2 separate regions of the Homo sapiens genome follow, and region 2 is linked to region 1. The links come from fine-mapping of genetic effects on plasma protein levels. A gene starts in region 1. The other region holds a variant in brackets. All regions are shown on one strand. Distances are from middle to middle.

Region 1 (10,683 bases):
ACTTCATTTACTGCTCACAACAAGCCCATGAGTAAATTACTATTATCCCTGTTTTACCGATTACTTCTCTGATGCTCAGAGAAGCGAATTCACTTGCTCAAGAGGACGGAGCCAGGAAGTGCAGTTGCAGCATCTAATCTGGGGAAATTAAAAGGCAGCCAACCCTCACTTCTTTGTATTTTTACCCAGGAAAGCATTAAGAATGTGGTAAGTTTCTAGGCACTTTTTTTTTTTCTTGAGACGGAGTTTCGCTCTTGTTTCCCAGGCTGGAGTGCAATGACACAATCTCGGCTCACTGCAACCTCCACCTCCCAGGTTCAAGCGATTCTCCTGCCTCAGCCTCCCAAGTAGCTGGGATTACAAGTGCCCGCCACCATGCCCGGCTAATTTTTTTGTATTTTTAGTAGTTTCTCCATGTTGGTCAGGCTGGTCTCGAACTCCTGACCTCAGGTGATCCGCCCGCCTCGGCCTCCCAAAGTGTTGGGATTACAGGCGTGAGCCACCGCGCCCAGCCTCTAGGCACTTTTAGGATAAAGATGGGCCTCTTGACAGGCTTGCATGGGAGGAAACTGGGGCACATGCAGGATTCTTTCCTCCTATCCCCCATGAGAAAGAAGCTCATATACCACTGGCTAAGGATTCCAGAGTCGGGTCTCCGCGAGGCAAGGAGCAAAAGCCATTATGAGGACCTCGCTGGTAGCCCAGTTAAGCTGCCAGACGAAACTCACGATTGGAGGTACAGTTACAATTGCAGAGGAAGGCAGGTCTCTGCAGATCCTAAAGATTAGTTACACCATGGGACAGATGTGACCAAGCTGCTTTCACTACCCAAGCCTGTGTCAGGAAGAGCTATTTTCAGTGAAAGGGCAGAACAGAGCGCTTCTGTCCATGACATTGTATTGTGCTACAGCACATCATAGAATGCCACATGACATCACAATATATTATAACTTGTTTACCTTACAGTTTGGCTTTTTGTGTATCCCCCGAGAGGTAGTCATCTCCTTGCATGTAGGATTCATGTCTAATAGAGCTTTCTTTTGTCCCTCCATACCACCTAGCAAGTGCCTGGCGCATAGCTTGTGCTCAACACAGGGGATGAAGAAATGCTGGCCGAGGAATGAGAGGGGGAATGGGACAGGAGGGAGGATAGAGTAAGGGGAGACAGTCGAGCAGGACCCCAAGATTTTGCACCCAGGATTCTGGGAGGGAGAGTGTCAAGGGCAGTGGGTGGGTGATCAGCTAAGGAGCTGGCCTGGAGGCTGGAGTGGAGATCGGGGCGGTGCAGAACACAATGGGGCCCTGGCTGCCTCCGGATAGGTGCTGGGTGTGGGGACAGCTGAGGGGCCCTCATGGGGAAGGGCAGCATGCACTGTCCTGCTCCCTCTCAAGGTTGTTTTTGGCAAAGGAGCTCACTAGAAACTTACCACATGTATGTTCCCTGGGGCTTTTCAGGGACTTCCTAGAGGGCAGGCCCACTGCCCCCCGCCCCCCGCACTGGAGCAGGATAAACTTGGTTTGCAGGGGCCTGGCTTTCTCTGAGGTGGCATCTACCCTACTAGTCCTAGGGACATCATAGTTAGCTCCTTGCTTTCCTTGGTATGTCCCACCTAGGAGGAGTTCATCAGTCAGGAGTCCCTGGGGGGCAGGGCTAAGGGGCCACCACGGGAAGGAGGCTCAGGTGGCTGACTCCGCTCCCCTGCTGGCTCTGCCCTGACACTGTCTCCATGGAATCCAGGGCTCCAGTTCTAATCATGGGTCAGTCTCTTCCTTGCACTGAGCCCAATTCCTACTGGAAAAAAGGGACATAGGAAAAGTGACCCACCACCTGCTTTAAAAAAAGACCGCAGGAGGCTTTACAAAGTCATGCATCCATCATCTCCTTTAGGGTCCTCCATCCATTCCTCTCCTTAAAACTCACTTCTCCTTTCTGCCACCTTTAACTCAGGCTCCTCCTTGCCTTGTCTGCCTCCAGTGCAGGCCTGAGCCCAGTCATGTGTGACTGCAGACCATGCAGACCACACCCCTCTGTTAGCCAGGGTCGTATGGAACTTTCCGTGGACCAAGATTTAGACCAGCACATCTCCAGCCTTCATGGGCATATGAGTTATCTGGAGAGTTTAGTAAAAGCCAACTCTGATTTGGTAGGTTCGGCTTTTCCAACAAGATCCCAGGGTAGGTTGATGCCGCTGGTCCATGGACCACATTTACTATGTGACCGCACTGTGCCAAGCAGGCTTTGCAGGGGAAAAGTTAAGTGTATTAAGTTATGGCCCCTGCTCTCAAGGAGGCATGTGAATAGACTCACATGGGATTTCTTCACATGTTTGAGGGAGGAAGGGATGGATGGATGGACAGATGGATGGATGATGATCTAAAGGCATAACTCCATAGAACTGGCCATACCCAAATGCAATAGGAGTTCAAGGAAGGGAGAGAGATGGGGAGAGAGAGTTCCACCTGTCTCGTGGGTTGTTGACCTCTCAAAGGGTATCCCTTGGAACCCCCATGTTGTGTTATTGCTTGAGAAGTGCCTGGAACAGATGCTCTGTGGCTGTTGGGAATGGTTGTGGTTTACTGTAGAACCATTTGCTTCACATGGAACTTCTGCTGGGAGTGCTCAAACATCTCTGCATTTAAGCATTTGTGTTCTTCCTAGAGCTCAGAACCATCAAGAGCTGATGAGAGAGACAAATGCTCCTTAAAGGCAGAAAGCTACCCACCTTAAGAAAATGCAATATTTCGCACGACTTTTGTTGTCTTTGTTTTTAAAGTGAAATGGGAAGATCATTTCTGTATAAAAATACAGACATTTCTTCAAAATGTAAGCCTTTAAAAAGCCCAGACACCTTTATCTTTTCCCGCAAAGGTCTAGCTAGTAGGAGGTAAGAAGAAGAGGGGAAAGTGAGAAGAAACGTAGATCTGAGCCTGACTCGGTGGCATTCAAGGAGTCCTCCATGTCTGGCCTTGCCTTCACCCCTTACTGCCATGTCTTATTCCCAGGGCCCTGCAGATGGCTCCACATTGTCCTGGGGCCACTGCCATGTCTTCTGGTGCATCTGCCCTTCGTTGCTTCCATTTGGGAGCCATCCTGCCCTCTCACTGTACCTCTGCATTTCAAACCCCCACCCATGCTTGGAGACATGCTTCTCTTAGGAAACCTCCCCCCAGCTTACTCCATGGCTTCCAGAATGCCATTCTTTCTTTCCTTTCTTTCTGTTTCTTTCTTCTTCTTTTTTTTTAGGGGGTTGGGGAGAGTGGGATACCTTTTTTGCAGCATTTTGTACAATCATTTTTTTCCTATTTCCCCTACAGATGCAGAGGTGGTATCTAAATCCTCTCTGTATCCCCATCTCATACAGAAGTAGGTGCTCAGTACGAGTCCTAAGCTGAATTTGTATGGCACTAGGACAGGATGGAGGAGACTGGGTGGGATTCTTGGTGCTATTTGCATTTGAGAATACATAGTAACACATTTATGCTCCTATGGAATGGAATGTACACCATAAATCTGGAAAACCCTATCCTGGACAGTCTTGATTCTGTTACTCTGCCCCCAAAATGCCAAAGGAAAACATAAACACATCTTGAAAGACTGTCTGAACGGAGCCCAACCAACAGAAGCTGAGTGTCACTGAGTAAGCTGGGCTCACCACCCCCAGGCACGGCTGCTGTGTGAAGTCTGTGCATTCACCACCTGCCATATTTGGGGTGGGCTTACCTCTTTGGAATGTGAATCCTTCTTCACTTTATCACTATTTTTAAATGGGATTTGTGTAGAGGAAGAGAAAGATATCTTTTCTTTACAGCCTGTCTACAAATATCTTTCCCAATAAGGCTGTGTCAACCTGAGTCTAAATTTAATGCCTCCATAAAAGAGAGAAAAATAGTGAAATGGTTATTTTGTCTACACGACACAATATTGCTGATTTAATCCATCTGTTTCTCTGAATTGGGCTGACTTGGGGTAGATACACTGATTGTGACTGTTTAATTTCTTTCTTTCTTTCTTTCTTTCTTTCTTTCTTTCTTTCTTTCTTTCTTTCTTCCTTTCTTTCTTTCTCTCTCTCTCTCTCTCTCTTTCTTTCTTTTGTTTGAGATGAAGTCTCGCTCTGTTGCCCAGGCTGGAGTGCAATGGCGCAATCTCAACTCACTGCAACCTCTGCCTCCCGGGTCCAAGAGATTCTCCTGCCTCAGCCTCCTAAGGGACTACAGGTGCACACCGCCACACCCAGCTAATTTTCATATTTTTGTAGAGATGGGGTTTCACCATATTGGCCATGCTGGTCTCAAACTCCTGACCTCAAGTGATCCTCTGGCCTTGGCCTCCCAAAGTGCTGGGATTATAGGTGTGAGGCACAGCACCCTATTGTACCTGTTTAATTTCTAACTGTTCTACCTACAGTTACCCATGCTGTACTTAAAGGTGTAAGTGAGGCTGGCCATGTGGGACACTCATCTCGGCCATCGATGCTCTTCTTCTACCAACTGGGGAAAACAGAAGCTCTTTGTTTTCAGTTCAGTGGCTCCAGAAATTGCAGCATTTCCTTATTAGTCTGACACTGCTATGATAGAATATTTTTCACATTAAGTGAATGAACATTTATTTACAACCTTTCTCAAATATGGAATACATATTTCCTGTCTCCTCAAAGAGACCACATTAAACTTAAATTAGCATTTTATTGGACATTTCAGTTTATCATTATGAATCGCAGGGACTACAGCAGATGCTGTAGATCGGGATATTCCCTGGAAGCATTGATGACTGTAAGGGCATTGACCCTACCCCACTGACCTTCGGCTACCATGTTTTGTATTTGTTGTGTCAACTTCACATTGCTTTTCTGTGTCCTCTCTTACTCTCCCTTTTTCCTGTTCTCATTGTGCTTCATCAACAACTGCTGCTTTCCTATCTCACCTCTAGTTTTCTGCATCTAATTGGTGAGGTCAGATGCCATTACGTGTTAATACAATATCTAAACTATGAATTAGCAGACATGGAGTAAGAAGGACTCTACAGTGCACAAAATGCATAGCTTTATATAACATCAATTCTGGCTATTTAGTGGTTTAGTTCCCCTTCTTTTCAGTTTCTTGGGTATGGTATGGATAGTGAGATTGTTGGACGATCAATTTCCAAATCAGTGATTTGCATATGTGTGCCACATATAGGTCTAATTCCAGTTTGAGTCACAAATTAGAGGTTTTTAATTAGTTGTTTGGAGTCACAGATGGGTAAAATATTAATGTTGGTGTTCAATTGGCTTTAGAATTTTAATAATTTCCATAGTTTATTTTGGCTTTGTCAATTTAAATTTTAAATTTTATTTTTCTTATGTCAATTCCCGTTGCTGGTGAAAAGAAATTTTCCCACAGTGGGTGGAGAGCTTAACTTGTACTCATAGATGGACCATGATTGCTGGAAGGAATCCAAAGCTCTTATATGTAGACACAGTCTATTGGCAAAGATGAATCACAGAGCTAGAGGATGAAATTAAGAACAAATTTGCAACGAGTCTGTACCACTTTGCTACTCACTAAACTGGATCATTTTGAACTAGGCTTCGATTTTTTCCACATACTTTAGTGTGTTCTCCCAAATTCTTTTTTTTTCTGTTGAATTTTTATGACAACTTGTATTTGAAGTCAGTTGTATAAATGCCTTTATAGTTGTATCTAAATTATTAGTCCACAGGGGCTTTCCTAACTCCTATGTGTTAGAATTGTGCTAGGCACAGTTCTTGTCCCCAAGCATCTTCCAAGCTCATTGATGAGATAAAGACCAATGGATATAAGGGGAAAAAATTAAAACTACACAAAAACATATGTAGCTTAGGCTATAAATGCCAGGGGGATTCAGAAAGCCAGGGAGACGTTGTGTTCTAGAGATATCAGAGAAGGCTTCTCAGAGGGGCTTTAACCTAGGAGGTCTTGATAAATGTGTGGAATTTGGTCATTCTATCTTCCAGGTAGAGAATATAGGACCTTCTGAGCCCCAAAGAGGACATGGGGCACTGATGGCAAGAGACCAGCTTTCTTCTAGCAGAGATTGGGCCTGAGGAAGAGCCCAGAGCTTAATGCAAGCCCCTGAATGGGAGCATGGAGACTCAGACAAGGCCCGTGGAAGGTAGGGGAGATGCTGGAAACTGGTTGAATTCTTCCCCATCTCCATCCAGACTGGACAAAGCCTAGAAGCATTTCCTTCAACAATGAGTTCTTTCCCTTTCCAACCAGAGCACTTGGAACTCCAGCCTCTACCAGGACAAGTGTCAAAGCATGATAGGCTAGGGATGGGGTCCCAGGACCCCTGGTGGAAGCCTAAGGCCCAGAAGTAGCTTCTTTCAAGTGCTCTCAGCTTCTAGGGGGAAAGCTCCAGAGAAACAAAACTGCCCAGGAGGGCAGAAGTTCTGGTTAAGTCAGACCCCAAATTCTGAGTTTCATTTTGCCTATAGTTCTTTGGGGGACCATATCGCTCAAAAGGAAGGTCTGTTTGGGGACGTTTCCTCCCTGGTATGAAAGGAGGCACCGGAGACCAAGAGAAGAGACCAGCTAAGCCCTGGGAAGAAGGCAGTTTGGCTAAGGTGAGAGAGGGCGCTCACCGGGGAAGGTGAGGTGAGGCGGCAAGCGGAGGGCTAGGGGGCCGACTGGGAAATTCTGGCGCTTCTCCCCGGCTCACAGAACTCGCCAGCTGGATCGGCCTCCCCGATCCCTGGCCAGGGCCGCAGCAGTGACCAACCGTCCCTGGCCAAAGCTGCTCTACGACGGCCGGCAGTGCCCACTCCCCGGGGGACTCCCGGACCCCAGCCAGGAAGAGCAGACACCACGTCTGAGCCTGGAGCTAGACAGTCCCCCCACAGCAGGCAGCTTGCACCGTTTAGTCTCGGCTCCCTCCGTCCTCTGTGGCTCTTTCAGTCCCCTTCCCAGGGCCTGCCCCTGCCCCCCACACCTTCACACAGGTCTCCTTCTGTGCAGTAACACACCAGCTCTTTTCCTGGCTGTCGGCTCAGGCCAACTTCGGCCTGTGCTCCAGAGGAAGCCTTCAACGCAGAGCTGGATGGGGGAGGGGTGGAGGGCAGTCGCTGTGAACGTCCAGGTGGGAGTCTGGGGACCAGGTACTGCAGGGAAGGGCTAAAAGATAGGTCGGGGTAACCCTTCAGATCTGGCTCAGCTAGCCTGTCTCCAAGATTTAGGACTCTGAATCTCTGTGGGCTCCTCCCTGTCCCCACTCCCAAACGCCTGACGCGGTGCCCCCTCGCCCTCCGCTGCTCCTTTCTACCGCTTTCCCTCCTCCCTCCCATGTCTTTTCCGTCCTTGGTCTAGGGCTCTCGGCCTGCGCCTCTGCAAACACCCCCTCCCCTCCAACTCCGGCAGAACTCCGAGGGGAGGGGCCGGAGGCCACCCTTCCCGCCTGTGGTCAGAGGGGGGCAGCGCCGCAGCCCCGGGTTTGGGGGGCAGGGGCCATCTCTGCGCCCCGCCCGATCAGGCCACTCGGCGCACTAGGGGTGGAGGGCGGGAAGCGTGACTCCCAGAGAGGGGGGTCCGGCTTGGGCAGGTGCGGGCACTGGCAGGGCCCAGGCGGGCTCCGGGGGCGGGCGGTTCAGGTTACAGCCCAGCGGGGGGCAGGGGGCGGCCCGCGGTTTGGGCGAGTTCGCCAGCCTCGAAAGGGGCCGGGCGCATATAACGGGCGCCGCGGCGGGGAGAAGACGCAGAGCGCTGCTGGGCTGCCGGGTCTCCCGCTTCCCCCTCCTGCTCCAAGGGCCTCCTGCATGAGGGCGCGGTAGAGACCCGGACCCGCGCCGTGCTCCTGCCGTTTCGCTGCGCTCCGCCCGGGCCCGGCTCAGCCAGGCCCCGCGGTGAGCCATGATTCGCCTCGGGGCTCCCCAGACGCTGGTGCTGCTGACGCTGCTCGTCGCCGCTGTCCTTCGGTGTCAGGGCCAGGATGTCCGTAAGTCTTCCCCCGCCCCTGCCTGCCTGCCTGCTTTCCATGCGTCCCTCAGCATCCTTCTCCCCGGCCCGCTCCAGCTCTGGAGCCCGCGGCTCCGGGCTAAAACGGCTCCCGGGGTCGTAGCGCGCCGACTTAGGCACAGGACACGCAGAAGTTCACCAAGAAGAGTTCTGCCAATCAAGGACTCTGTCCCAGGGTCCTCGGTGCCCATCGCAGTTGCAAGTATTTGCAGGTCCCTACGTTGCGCTAGAATACTGAACTTGCAAAGTGTTGGCTCGGAGAAGTTTGCGCACAGATATAAATGGGCTCTTTTCCACCAGCTTTGATAATTAGGCGCACATGCACACAGCTCGCCTCTTCGAAGCACTTCGAGTTCAGCAAAAACAGATCTCAACTCATCGAACTTAGGTGAAGTAGGAAAGAGAGAGCGCGAGCGAGGGAGCAAGCAAACGCCAAAGGGTTGACTTCACAGCCTGTCCAAGGCTTGGTGGCTGGTGGGCTCAAAGCAGAGTTAGACAAAGGGGACTAACACTCTGACACTGGTGGGCTGAAATCCCAGGCCACAAAGAACGGCTTCCGATAGGCCCTCTGAGACCTCAGCGCCTCTTTAGGGTACCCTCCCCCTCCCAGCTGGCCCTGGAGCAAGGTGCAGCCCTAGCGCTCATCTCGACTTCCCTCCGTCCGCCTGCGCCTCTCTTCTGATAAAGGGTACAGAAACTTCCAGTAGGAGAGGCCATCTGAAAGACGATAACATTCCAACCAGACCGTGCTTTTCAAATGCCCCCGAAAATAGCGCCCCCTTCCCCGCGGTCTTACCCCATTCCCCGCCGCCCCGAGGTACTACAATGAGTTACTTTTCTAAATTCTGGAACTCACCGAGCCAGGCTGCGTGGTGTGTGTGTGTGTGCGTGTGTGTGTGTGTATGTGTGTGTCAGGGAAGGGGAGCAGGCTGGTCGATTGCTACGGTTGCTACAACTATTTCAACCGGTATAGTTAGAGATGGCTCTTGTAGTCGGGTCCAAATGCTGTTCGGACTGCACCTTTCTACCCCTCCTTTGGTAAGGTCCACTGTCTGGGATTATATTCAGGACAAACGAAGCCTGGAAAGTGTATTAGGTAGAGAGGATTTTTTTTTCCACGTGTTTGGGCACGTTTCCGACGGCTGGGATTCCAGCCCTGTCTTTGTATGTTACAGATTGTAAATCAATCGCAGAGGGAAACTCTTCGGCGGGGGGAATAAAAGTTCTCTGCCTTCGAGGCTCTGTGGGCCCTCTCCTGCCACCAGGCTGTTTCCAGGGATAGCGTGGAAGGCGGCGGGCTCAGGCGGGCTTTCCGGTCATTAGCGCAGCGGGGGCAGGGCTGGAGCCTGCGGCGCAGCTGCGAGGAGCCGGGAGCAGGAGACTCTGGCCGGGTCACCCGGTAGTGCGCTAAGCTGGAGGCGCGCTCCTGGGCATTTGAGGAATACAGCGTGACTATACGTGGCCTGGACTCAGACTGACTATATTTTTGTACTACATTTACAAGCACACGCCCACAAAGCTGTCTTCTTGACTGACCCCTGCCTTAGTGCGCAATGGAATTAGCTGGGTGGCTTTAAAATAATTCTCAAATTCTCCATCCGGTATTAGGGTCGCTTGCTTAATTAGGCGGTAGAGCTCTCTCATCGCCGCATCTTTCCTGGGAGGGAGTGATTCCACAGCTTCTCCGGCCCAAACCTTCCAGTCGCTCCTCCTCCCAGAGGGAGTGTGATTCTGCATCCGAGAGGCTGATTTTGCGCCCTGGAGCATCCCACCTTTTATAACTTCCCCCGCCTGGGGTCAGCGGACCCAAAGGTGTGACGTGGGGAAATGCGCAGTCTGCGTGGACGTCAGGAATGTCAGACACCTAGAGCTCGGCCACACCCCTCCTCTCCATCTTTCCACGAGTTTGAGAAACTTACTGGCGGCGGCGTCTTTGACCCTCATCTGCATTTCAGAGCCCTCGCCTCCGAAAGTGCCCCTGGCTCAGGGGAGAGATCTCAATCCTCCTTTGTGAGGCTTGTTTGCATTGGGAGATTGGCAGCGATGGCTTCCAGATGGGGCTGAAACGCTGCCCGTATTTATTTAAACTGGTTCCTCGCGGAGACCTGTGAATCGGGCTCTGTGTGCGCTCGAGAAAAGCCCCATTCATGAGAGACGAGGTCCAGTGGGTTCTCTCGTACTCCCAGACCCCCTCTCCCACAATGCCCCCCTGTGCCCGCCCGCCGCCACCTCTCGGCTCCAGCCCTGCGCAGAGCGGCGGTGAAGCAAAACAGTTCCCCGAAAGAGGTAGCTTTTTAATTGGCTTGCCACAAAGAATCACTTATACGGCCCTGCGGTAATGAGGGGAACCGGATCAGGCGCGCCGGGATGCTATCGGCAGCCGTTTTGGAGCAGCAATTATGGTGGTGCTGGGCTCCTCCGTCCACACCTAGGGGATCCGGTTACGGCGCTGGCTCCTTTCTGGGGCAGTCATTTAATCCCACTTTTCACTCTCCCGGTGTCTGTGAGCGAGCCGTGTCCAGAGCCGCAGCCACAGAGTCACTCAGCGGCTCTTACACCCAGCGCAGCCTGGCCCCGCCCCTGCGCCGGCGCTTCCCGGGCCGCCCTTCCCCGGGAAATCTGATCCGCACGGGGAGTGGCCCCTCTCCTAGCATTTCCCCCTCTCCTCCCTGGGTCCTCATGGGCGAGGGTGGGCTCTCCTGTAGTCTGGGCTGG
Region 2 (11,518 bases), 21 kb before region 1:
TTGGGCACTGCGGTGCAGCATTTGGGGCACAAAGCTGCATAAGGGATCTCTCTGGGGAGAAGAGGCCAGAGCCAGCAGTCTACCTCAGCCAGTCCTTGGGGGTATGAGGGCAGCTGGGAGGCTGGCTGAAGCCACTGGCTCTCCAGAGCTTTTGCTGAGGACTTGCTCAAAAGCCTCTTTGTTCACTGTTCCAGCTTCCACAAGAAGCTCTCCACCCCTGGGTCCTCAGGGACCTTGGGCTGCCCCACCAACATACAGGGGTCTCCAGCCCCTCCCACCATCAGCCAGAAAACAGCCAGCCCTCATCACTCTACAGGATTTTTAAAAGGATGGGTGGCTCAGGGACAAGGGACAGGACTGCTAGGGAGATGGGGTGGGCAGGAGGGACTGTGTTAGGAAGAATCAGTGGAAGTCCTGTAAGCCGGCTGCTCCCCAAACAAACATTTTACTTCTTTTGGAGGCCAGGAATGAAAGACTTATTAGCTGTTTATATTACTTAAAAGAGTTTTGCAGATGCTTATTAATTTGTAGTTATTAATATTAATTATTATTGATTATTAAAGGACTCAGAATCCACTTGCTAACACTGTTTTCTCTGTCTTCTTCCTGTAATCCCTTCCATTGCCCCCTTCCAGCCTCTATGCTATCAGAAAGAGTGAGGAAGACTGGAAAATATGCCAGTGGGATACTTGACAGGTTCCCTTGAACTGAACTCCAGCCTTCTTCATCCCCAGACTGGCATCTAGAAGGAACCAGAGAATGCAGGAAGGAGTCCCAGCCTGAAGGTTCTGGAGGGTAGAGTCAGCTCCACTGGGAGCAGGGAATCAGGGCATCTCTAGTGCCTTTTCTACTTCTCTTACTGGACACTCCTAAGACTGGTTTTCTTCCACTTTTTTGCTATGGCCCTTCTGGATCTGAGGTCTGTCTCCTCCTGAGGGTAGGAATGGCAGTCACTGTTGCATTTCCTAAGCTCAGGAAGAATATGATTCACAGCTCTGTGGGAGCCTAACTTTCTCTGGCTCCTCCTGCTTGCCTGGGCCCCACTCCCAAAACCTCTCCTGCTCCCTGCTCCTGCTCAACAGTCACCTCCTGCTCCGCTCTGGTACAGCCTGTCTTTCTGCTCTGGGGCTTGTGGTGTTAGGAAGTCCTCAGGACTAGGTGGGCCAAGGACAGACTAGAAACTACTTAAGGCACAGGAAGGCAGGGGTACTATATAAAAAATTAAGATTTAATTTCTGATATTTCATATTTTTAAAGCATCAAAGTAATCCTCATGGCAAAAGTTAGAACTTCGTCAGACTTCTTTATACTTAATCGTTAGAATTGCTTTCATTTTGAATACCAATCGTTTCAAAACTTGGTATTTGTAAAGGTTTTAATCCAGCTCCAATAGTTTTGCACTGTCCCTAAACAAGAGAAAAAGCAGCCTGGAAAAATCAGCCCTGCATGGCCCCAAAATGGGGGCAGAGGGATGGCAGAGTGCTATGAAGAGCACAGCATTTGGGGCCAAGAGGCTTAGGTTCAAGCCTCAAAGCCATCATTTGCTAACTGAGGGCCCTTAGAATTACCCTCTCTGATCCTCCATTTTCTCCTAAGATGGGCATAATCTTATCTATTTACTACCTACATAATATTAGCCAGTTACTTCGCATATTGTAGTGAAGGCCAAATGGGGTTGCAGGTGTCTAAGCACATTAAAATAGTCACTGCATCAACATTAATCGTCATTAGAGCAAAGAGTGGAAGGAACGTCCCATAGCGATCACTAGAAGCTTTACAACAGCATCTTGTCCACTTCCCAGCCTCTAGTCTAACTCAAACATATCCAGGGAGTAGACCCCAGCCCGCCTCACTCTAATTCTGGGCTCAAAACTTAGGAAGGTCTTTCTGTTGCTGAAATAAACACTTCTTGGTCTCATGAACAACAATCGTTTAATTCAAGGCAAATTTCTAAAAGGGTTCCCTTTGCTTTACAAACACCACCTGACCAGGCCTGCAAGGGAAGGGGAACCATTTTAAGGGGCCCCCACCATGCAGGGCCGCTTGGTCACTGTGCTATCGATGAGGACATCATCTGCAAGATCACTGTTTTCCCTCTGGCCGTGGTTGGATGAAGCCCAGTGTGCTGTTCTCATTGTTTGGGCGCAGCATCACAGGCTATGAGTTGAAAATTGGCTCTCCTTGGACAGTCCTCAAGCACTACATTTTTTTCAGTGACTCTCACCAGACCCACAGATGAATTTACCTTCTCTGCGTATGCCTTTTGACTGGTTCTGTTTCAGGGAACCGCAAGCTCAATAAGCTCCACTGTTCTACCAAGCTGGACAAACAGCCACGTCTCTGTTCTCTTGGCCAGACCCTGAGGCCTGGAGTCCTGCCTTCAGGAATTCCAGAATTCTAGAAAGTTAGAGCTAGACAAGACCTCAGCCTTCATCTAGTCTTGCTCCAACCACTGTGCGGATGGGGAAACAAGGCATGGGCTGGGGATGACTTAAGGGGTATAAAATGTTGGGCTTTCTTTTGTCAAGCCCAGCATGTGCCTCCTATAGGCACCAGTGGTCTCTGCAAGTCCTGGCCTGCTGGCCTCGCAGCCACAGAGAGCTCGGACTCTCTCAGGCAGCTCACTTCATTGCTGGAACAATAGCAATGTTCTTCCTAATGCTGGGCAAAAATTGGCCTCCCGCCTTCCTTTAATGCTCACCTGCTTGTGCAGTCTCCAAGGAGAGATAGGTCTGGCCTGCATAGAACAATTGGAAATTAATTCATCCTTAAAGGAAGTGGAGCAGACTGTCCCAGGTCATTCTTGGGCAGCCTCTGCCATTAGATTGGAGAGAAGGCCCAGCACTCTGGGTCTACACAGACTCTGAATATAGAGACCTGGATTCATGTTCTGTTGCCTAAGAGCTATTAATACACGATGGTGAGCATGTTACTAACCTGTTTAAGCCTCAGTTTCCTCTACTGTGAAAACAGAGGTAATAGGAGTTTCCTATGTTGGTTCATTCTCCGTATGGCTCACCCATGATCCTAAGATGGCTACCTAGAGAAATATGGCTAAAGGAATGGGTCATTCCCTCTTGTCTTGCTGGCACCATACAACTTGGAGAACCTGTTCAGATATGCTTCCATAGATCTGCTCAACAGCCCCGGGAGGTAGACAGGGAGGTTTACTATTTATGGTTTACAGATAAGAGAACCAGGCTGGGAAATTCTAAGTGGTTTGTACAAGATCACCCAGCTAAAAAGCAGGAGAACTGGGACTTGAATCCAGGCCTCCTGAATTTGGTGACAGTGCAGACTTGCTCCGTGCCATCAGGCCTGGCTCCTGGGAAGGAACACTTTGAGAAGCCTTAGTGGGGCTTGGTCTCATGCCTCACCCAGGGCCTGGCCATAGTGGGTGCTCGGGGGACCTTTGTCTTTTCTGCCACAGCCTGAGCCAGAGTGGAAGCTGGGCTGTGCAGCAGAGCAGGAACCCAGCAGGTGGCAGGGACAGCCTGGCTGTGCCTGCTTTCTCCCTTGGTGGTGGGGACCACATGCTAAGCTACGTCTGTAAACATGGCCACAGCCTCTTTCTGATCCCTTGAGCTCTGTGTCTCTGCATACACGTCTCTTGGTTTTCTTTCTCCTTTGACTTCACTCTCCTCCCCACTCTCCCCATGCCCCTCCTCTGTCCTGGATTTGATCTTCTGTCTCCTGGCCTCCTTGTCTCTCTCAACATCCAGTGTTTTTTTCTCTTGTTGACTTCCTCTTTCCCTCTCTCTCCCTCAGTTCCTCCTTTGGATCTTCCTGGGTCGAGCAGACAAGTGAGAGGCTTCTGCCGTGCTCAGGGCAAGAGGCTGCTGAGCTGCCCTTCCGTCCCCTCCTCCCTCCCCACACATCCCTCTCCCTTGCCCTGGCCCCTCATCACCTTGGCTGGCTCCTCCTTGATGCATGGGCTGAGGCGAAGGTACAGGGAGGCAGTTAGAGCAGCTTCCCTGGATACAAAAGCTTCTTTCTACCCCTTGGAGATGAGGTTTCCAGGCAGGTTATTTTTATAGCAGGGCTCAGGCAGGATTCTTCAGAGAAAATAAACAAAGTCATACACACCAGTCCTTCACACCCTTCAGCCCCTTCCCTGGAGAGGGGCCCAGCCTAGCTGTGCCGACACAGGGACGCCCACCACCCCAGAGGGGCTGTGGGGGCTGCTGCCGGGATATCAAGAGGCCAGGGGTCTGGGATGGGGGAGGGGGCGCCAAGGAGGGAGACTGACACAGGTCCCCTGCAGCCCCAGTCAGGCCAGGAGGAGATGGCTGGAACCTTGGGGTCCCTGCCTCACCACTGGGGCCAGAGTCTTGGGTCCGGCATCTGTAGGGGAGAGTCAGATTCAAATGCAGGCGTAACCCAAATTTTCTAAATGCTTACCAAGTGCCAGGCACTGTGCTTGCAATTTACAAACACATTTTACTTATTCCTCATCACTGAATTCACTGAATTCAGTAGAAGTCATTTCTACAAGTTGCCACTTAGTATTGGCCTCTATGTGCCTGGCACTCTGTTAGGTGCTAGGGAGACAAGATTAAATGACACATGGAGAGAGAGAGAGCTCAGAGAGCTTTCCAGCTGGTGAGACATTGATTGAATCCCTTACTATGAAGATTTCAAGGTGGATATTTTTATGCTCATTTTGCAGATGAGAAAAGAGACTTAGTGAGGTCAAGTGACTTGTCCAGGGAAGCTTGGACCTTTGATGTCAAGGGCATAAGGGATCAGGGACTCAGAGATCTCTTGGGGCAGGTTTCTTGGGGGTAGAAATGTCAGCTAAGAGGGTGTAGAGGGCAAGAAGCCTGAGATGGGATAGGAGAACAAGGTACAAATCCACGTGCAGTTTTCCTGGGGTCTTGGGCCATTCCAGACCTAGGGTGGAGCACACGTGGTCCCTCATTCTTGAGGGCAGGCAGTCAACAATATCTTGTCTAACAGATCCCAGAAAGGAAGGCCTTTCATAACCAGATTGGCTGCAGTCTTCTCAAAGCTCTTTTATGAGGAAGCCTCAGGTTAAAAAAAACTTCATAAATCATGTGCATTCCCCGTCAGGCATGACAAAAATACATGACCCTTGTGGGTCCCTGCCCAGTGAAGG[C/T]AAACAGCTCACTGAGGCAACGCTGGGAGTGCACACAGGCCTGCCACTGTCCTCCACCTCCCTCAGCCGAGCATGTTCCCCAGCTCAGGGCAGCCCCCATCATCCTTGACAGGCCAGGGAATTCCAGATACCAGACAATCATTCTAATGACCCTTCAGGAGTGAGTTTCAGTGTGCTGCCTTAGCCTCCACAGGCATTCGGCCTTTTTTTTTTTTCTTTTGAGGTGGAGTCTCGCTCTGTCACCAGGCTGGAGTGCAGTGGCGCGATCTCGGCTCACCGCAACCTCTGCCTCCCGGGTTCAAGCAATTCTCCTGCCTCAGCCTCCTGAGTACCTGGGACTACAGGCACACGTCACCACGCCCAGCTAATTTTTGTATTTTTAGTAGAGACGGGGTTTCACCATGTTGCCCAGGATGGTCTCCATCTCTTGACCTCATGATCTGCTTGCCTCAGCTTCCCAAAGTGCTGGGATTACAGGCGTGAGCCACCACGCCCGGCCTCATTCAGCCTTTTTATGACTAATTCTGGAATGAAGGAATGTGTCTGTTTCAGAAGTTCCAAGTATCAATAGGTAGAGTTCTAGTGAATTCCCAGAGTCTGGGGAGCCCCAAAATAACATATTCTAGTGTCTACGTTTGCTTGTCTTTAAAAGGGAGCTAATAATACTCACGTCTTGGGGTACGAAGAGTTTGCAGACAGGCAGTGCCGAGCCCAGCATCTAATGCATGGCAAGCACTCCAGCCTCCTCCTGTGCGCCAGGCTCAATCTCCACTCATTCATCAGGCGCGTGCCCAGTGCCTGTGGTGTGCTGAGCGTGCGCTGGGCGCGGGGTTCAGAGTCTCCTGGGGCCCAGTCCCTGCCTCCAGGAGTTTACACAGAACAGCCTCTGAGACTCCCAGCATCAGGCAAGACAAGCTGGTGTCCCTTCCAGGACCCAAGGCCTTCCCTCCCCAGCCTGAGGCAGGGGTACCCTCCCTCAATTCCCCAGTTACCTTCCCACCACTCTCCAAGGTCTCAGTTTATTGTTTTTTCATTCTACCGGGGGCTGACCTTAGTTGTGGTTTAATGGCCTTTTCCTCCTGCGGCCCCTCTTAACTGACACCTGGAATGCCTCTCTGAGCTGCCTCTCGCCTTTCTGTCTCTGCTAATGAGGTTTCTAACAAAGCCATGTGTCACTGGAAGTCTGCTCACAGAGGGACTGCTGGACTGTAGCCTGGGGGACCCGGGCTCTGTGGGAGGAAGGGGATGTGGCAAGGGGGGAGGGCCGAGGGAACACAACATTTCTTTCAGAAAAGGCTGAGGCCTGGGGCGAGGGAAGGCAGGAGGCTGGAGCCCGCTCCCTCTGAGCATGCTCCAGGGTGGCCACAGGCTGACGGCTGGAGAACTCACCCCAACCCCCAGGCTCTGGAGAACTCGCCCCAATCCCCAGGCTCTGGAGCTGTCATTGTAGCCACCTGAGCAACGGCTGAAGGACCAGGGCCTGGACCTTGTAGGGTGCACCTAACTTAGTGTCTGGCACAAGGAGACACTGGGTGTGTGCTAGTGGCTTCTCTCTAGTCTGTCCACGTGGGTGGGCTTCAGAGAAGATGGCCTTGAGTGTCCCCAGGCACTGTCCTTTCTGTGCCGGGGAAGGTCTATGTGCATCCCCAGCCAGGCCTGCTCCTGGAGGATTCCGTCTCCTAGGCCAAACTTGACAGAGGAAGATGAGCTCCACGAAGAGCCCTGGAGACCAGACCTTCCAGAGAAGAGACGGCTGTGCGATAGCCCAGGAATAAGTGCTCTCCAACTTTCCACAGGGCTGTTAGATCCAGGAAAGAAACTCAGCTCTCAGGCTCAGGGATCAAGAGATTGTATGTAGAAAACACCTCATGGTACATCCATAATCAGCCAACAGATCAAGCACCTACTCCCTGGAAAATGAGTGCTGAAAGGCTGCTCTTGGCAAGAACTAAACTCCAATGAAGGCACAGCCATGCAGTGTACTTGCTGTTACTGTGAATCTGGTACTGTCTGTTCATTCAGTTCTCCCAACAAACCTGGGAGGAGGAAGATGTTGCTGCCATTGCCCCCCATAACAGATGAGGCAACTGAGTAACAGAGAGGTTAAGCAATTGGCTCAAGCACACAGAGCTGGCAAGCAGTAGTTATAAGATTAGAACTCGAGCCTGAACTCGAGCATGATGCTGTACTATCTGCCCCACTTGCAGGGAGGGGGAGGTTTGGGAGCCTGGGAGAAGGTGGGGGAGCAGGAACAAGTCAGGCCAGTGGGCAAATCGTGTCAGCAGAGCAGTCTAAGCAGAGGGGAAACCAAAGAGAGGAGCCACGCCGTCCTGGCCCTGAGTACACTGGGCCTGGTGGAGAAGCCAACCAGGGACAGAGACAGGAAAGCTGGATGAGAAGGGCCTTGGGTGCTGATCTGAGGAGCTGCCCTGTGCCTGTAGACAGTGTCTCAGTAGAAAAGTCTGGCCAAGTGCAGACTGGAGGGGACAGGCAGAACCATGACCCAGGGAGCCGGGACAAGTCACTAGAACTCTCTGGATAAGGAGCAGGCCCCCTCTCTGACCAGCCCGGGGCAGGACCTCCCTGTGTAGAACAAAATTGTGTCCATCAGACTGCTGTGTCCAGACAGCTCTAGGTGAGGGCTGAGATCACATGCAGTGTTCCCAGATCGATTTGCTAGATCTGAGGGTCACCTAGACTATGATTGTTTTTATGGTTTCCTTAAGTCAACTTTCTCATTCTCTTTTACTTTACTCAAGTTTACTTGAAATGAAAACTCTGTAACATGGGATTGATATTCTACCTTTTCCTCCAATACTTATTAAAATAAATCTGTTTTACAGGTTTGGTCCCTGCCAAAATACATACACATGTACATTAAAATATAGATACTATATATAACACTATTAGAATGCAAAACTTTCATCCAAGTTCTACCTAAAATCACCCAGGGACCTTTGCACTTAGGAAACATTGTCTTGTGGCCTATCCCTTGCTCTCCAGTTGAAGTGACCTCATTCAAAGATTTCACATTTGGAAAAGGCAAATCAGAAAATCACTCAGACCCAAGGGAGGGAAGGAGGCCAGGCTTGGGCTGGGGGCGGGGGCTGGGAGGCACCCTGGTGGGCTTGAGACCCAGGGGCTGGGGGCAGGCAAGTGAGCTGCCTAGGGCCGTGAATGAGGCCTTGTTGAGAGCCGTGGCAGCTCGGCAGTGTGCAGAGACCATGCTGCAAATGTAAAGTTTCCAATAACTTTTATGGGTGGTTTCTTAATAAACATCTGAGCAGCCTGTCTGGACCGAGAGCTGTGTTGTCCCAGGCGCCCAGAGATGGAGCTGGGTGAGGGGCTGCTGTCTGCAGTGTCAGCCTCTGCACCCCACCCACAGCCTCCCACGGCATCCCCTCCCCATCTCCCCTTTGTCTTCCTCTGTCTTCCTTTTTACTTCCTTTTCGCTGTTTAATGAGAACGACTTCCATTTGCTATTTGTTGACTGAGTCCGGCACTGCATTAAGCTCTGTCTACATTTTGTCTTAGTGCTTGCAGGCACTTTATAAGGTAGACGCAAGTATTGTGCCACTTTTACACATCAGGGAACGTATGAACACATCAGGTTGCTCAGCAATGAAGTGGAAGAGCATTGATAGCCCTTTGGGCACAGATCTGTGTGCCTCCAAAACCCATGCTCTGAGCGCTGGTAACCTCTACTCCTCCTCTTCCTCACCTTGTCAGCATCAGCACTCCACCTTCCCTTTCCTCCTCCGCTTCGAATCTCAGAGCCAACTTCAGCTAGTGCCTCTCCCTTCGGAAACACCTCCGGGAAATACCTCCTCCCAGATCACCCCTGCCAGAACCAGCAACGACTATGAGTACAGCACGTGGGTCTGCAGGTTAGTTGACTTGTCTGTGATGGGACTGATTAATCGAATGCTGAGACACTTTTGTAGCCATTTGAAAGCCATTTGGGTTATTGGCCCTGGCTTCAGATAAACAAGATAAATAAACCTCAGCAAGAAGGAAATGGCTTCTGGGGTCTTTCTCAGAATTTGGTACATCAAAGTGAAGTCCTAGATGGAAGGGTACACTTCCCACAAGCACCTTCCAGTGGGGTCCCTTGCTTTGTTTAGTTGACTTATCACTAAACATATGGGCTATAAGATTGATAATATGTTTTGTAAAAAGGGTAGATGCTCAATGGCCTCGTTGGGCCTATCCAAAGATAGAATGCTATGGGAAAGGAAAACACCTTAAGAAGAAAAGTTCTTGGGTGAGGCGCGGTGGCTCACGCCTGTAATCCCAGCACTTTGGGAGGCTAAGGTGGGTGGATCACTTGAGACCAGGAGTTCGAGACCAGCCTGGCCAACACGGCGAAACTAAAAATACAAAATTTGCCAGGTCTGGCGGGGGGTGCCTATAATCCCAGCTACTCAGGAGGCTGAGGCAAGAGAATCGCTTGAACCTGGGAAGCAGAGGTTACAGTGAGCCGAGATCATGCCACTGCACTCCAGCCTGGATGACACGGCAAGACTCTGTCTCAAAAAAAAAAGAAGAAGAAGAAAGGTTCTCAGATGTCAGGAGACAGAAACAGTGACCTTGAAGTGTAAACACTGAACCCTTAGCTCACAACAAATCAGTTAGAATGTATTAGCTGCATTAGAACTGTCCACACTGACTTCAACCCTGTATTTCTTGGGTCTGGAGCCTTTTGTAGGGCTCCGTGTGTGTACATATTCTGCAAACTCCTAACCTGGAAGCAGTCATTTGGTGGCTATAAGCTGTGAGCAAGAAATGCTCCAATTATCTGTGCATTAAGATTAATCAGAACTCTGGTCACCGATGCATATATGTGTGATGCTGAAGCACTGCCTTCCAGCCTCTCTGTGGTTGTGTTTGTCTGATAATTATAAGATCCGTGAGGACAGAGGCCACAGATCAGGGATGTCCTTCTTCCGAGATGGAGACAAGGGCAGAGCAGGTGGCAAACTGTGGCCTTGTGTTCCAGGGGGGCGTGTCCACACTTCACACTCTGATTGTGCTGGCTTGCAGTGTGGCTGGGCCTCTCGGGTTGCAGCACCCTCATTTGTTCTACCCTAACACAATCAAGAAAGATAAAAAAGAACACTGTAGCCAGGGAATCTCAGCTGCTGTGCCAGTCACCGGCCATTCATTGTGTGGGGCTGAAGATCTAGCTGGGAGTCAGGTCTAAGAACTGGTTCAGCTCCTCCCCTTGCCTCATCTGTGAAGGCTACTCAGAGGAAAGAAACATGCACCTAGGCTCTCGAAGCCTTCACTGAAGGACAGAGAGTGCTTGTTACAGGCAGTTCCTTCAGGGTTGAAATTCCATTTCAGGTCTCAGCACCTAAAGTCATTTTTCTTTCTTATTTATGTTTCCTGTGGAAAGTCTGAAGAAAAACTGGTGGAGCATCTTTTGAGTTTGCATTTGGAAGGGAGAAAATATGCTCCTTCTCTGCTGGGCAAACATTGCAAACATTGGTGCTTTCACAAACCAAACACAAGCTGGTTTTCAAAGCCTCCGGCTTGGCGACCCAGGGAACTGGGGGGAGGGGAGGAGAAGGATGCAGCCACCTGGGCTGGGGAGGTTTGCTTTGGGAGCAGAGGTTGGAATTTGTGAATTTTCTACTCCAAGAAGATCCAAATAGTGCAGCTCCAGCCCCATCCTGCGCAAGCTTGCTCAGGCAATAGGGGCTCTACCTGGCTGGGGTCTCGATGGAGAGCCAGGGCCTTGGATGATCACCTCCCCGCCCCAATGCAGCCTGGAGTGAAGTGGAGAGGGGAGGGGTGAAGAGGTGTAGGAGAGACGGTGCAGATGAACCAAGATGGCCTCAGGGATTCTGGTCCCTCTCTCTGGGTGATGCTGAGGATAGAGAGCGGGGGTGAGAGTGAGAAGAACATGCCTCTGCACCCACAAATTTGCCAGGCTTTCAAACACTGACCAGGCAATCCACTGGGCAGTTGTTCCTATAAAGCTAGGACTATGAGAATAGCAGATGTATACTATGGTCTGTCTGGTTCTTTCAGCGTAGTCTGTAGCAAAAGGTTTCCTCACTCCCTCCTTTTCTTCTTCCTTCCTTCCACTTCTTTCTTGACAGAATAATATAATAAATTTCCAAGCACTCATCACTAGCTTTAATAAGTATCAACTAATGGCCAATCTTGTTTAATCCATAACTGCACCTACTTCACCCACTCTTTGTCCTCCAACTGAAATGTTTTGAAACAAAATCTAGACATCATATCCTTTTATCCATAGATACCTAGATTTAAAAAAAATTTTTGATATTGAACTCTGATGATACAGGGAATCTCCTTCCCGGTATCTTAGGGAAAAAATGCCCTTCATAAGTCTACATATAAATTTTGCAAATCATTGTAGGGGTTCAG

Direction of the effects. Alleles are on the strand shown, and positions count from the first base shown. The strength of an association depends on the size of the effect and on how common the allele is.
As copies of T replace C in region 2, the plasma level of the protein whose gene starts at base 7,709 in region 1 goes down (strong association).

Evidence for each region. PIP is the posterior inclusion probability: the model's chance that the variant is causal. Protein levels are from antibody-based Olink assays in UK Biobank. Linkage for the fine-mapping came from a reference panel and not from the study's own genotypes, which makes the PIPs less certain.
Region 2: its variant is fine-mapped to the plasma level of the COL2A1 protein (UK Biobank, PIP 0.98).

The regions. Positions count from the first base shown.
Region 1 is chr12:48,001,502-48,012,184 of GRCh38, reverse strand. It overlaps COL2A1 (collagen type II alpha 1 chain), which reads left to right and starts at 7,709. Exons shown (of 54, transcript NM_001844.5): 1 at 7,709-7,948. The coding sequence starts at 7,864. RefSeq lists enhancers at 838-1,337, 1,338-1,839.
Region 2 is chr12:48,022,308-48,033,825 of GRCh38, reverse strand. It overlaps LOC105369750 (a long non-coding RNA gene), which reads right to left. Exons shown (of 4, transcript XR_944904.3): 3 at 3,908-4,055; 4 at 2,378-2,737. Among named protein-coding and RNA genes, the nearest start is that of COL2A1, 24 kb to the right of the region's middle. RefSeq lists an enhancer at 11,317-11,518. The variant C/T (reference allele first, on the strand shown) is at 5,120.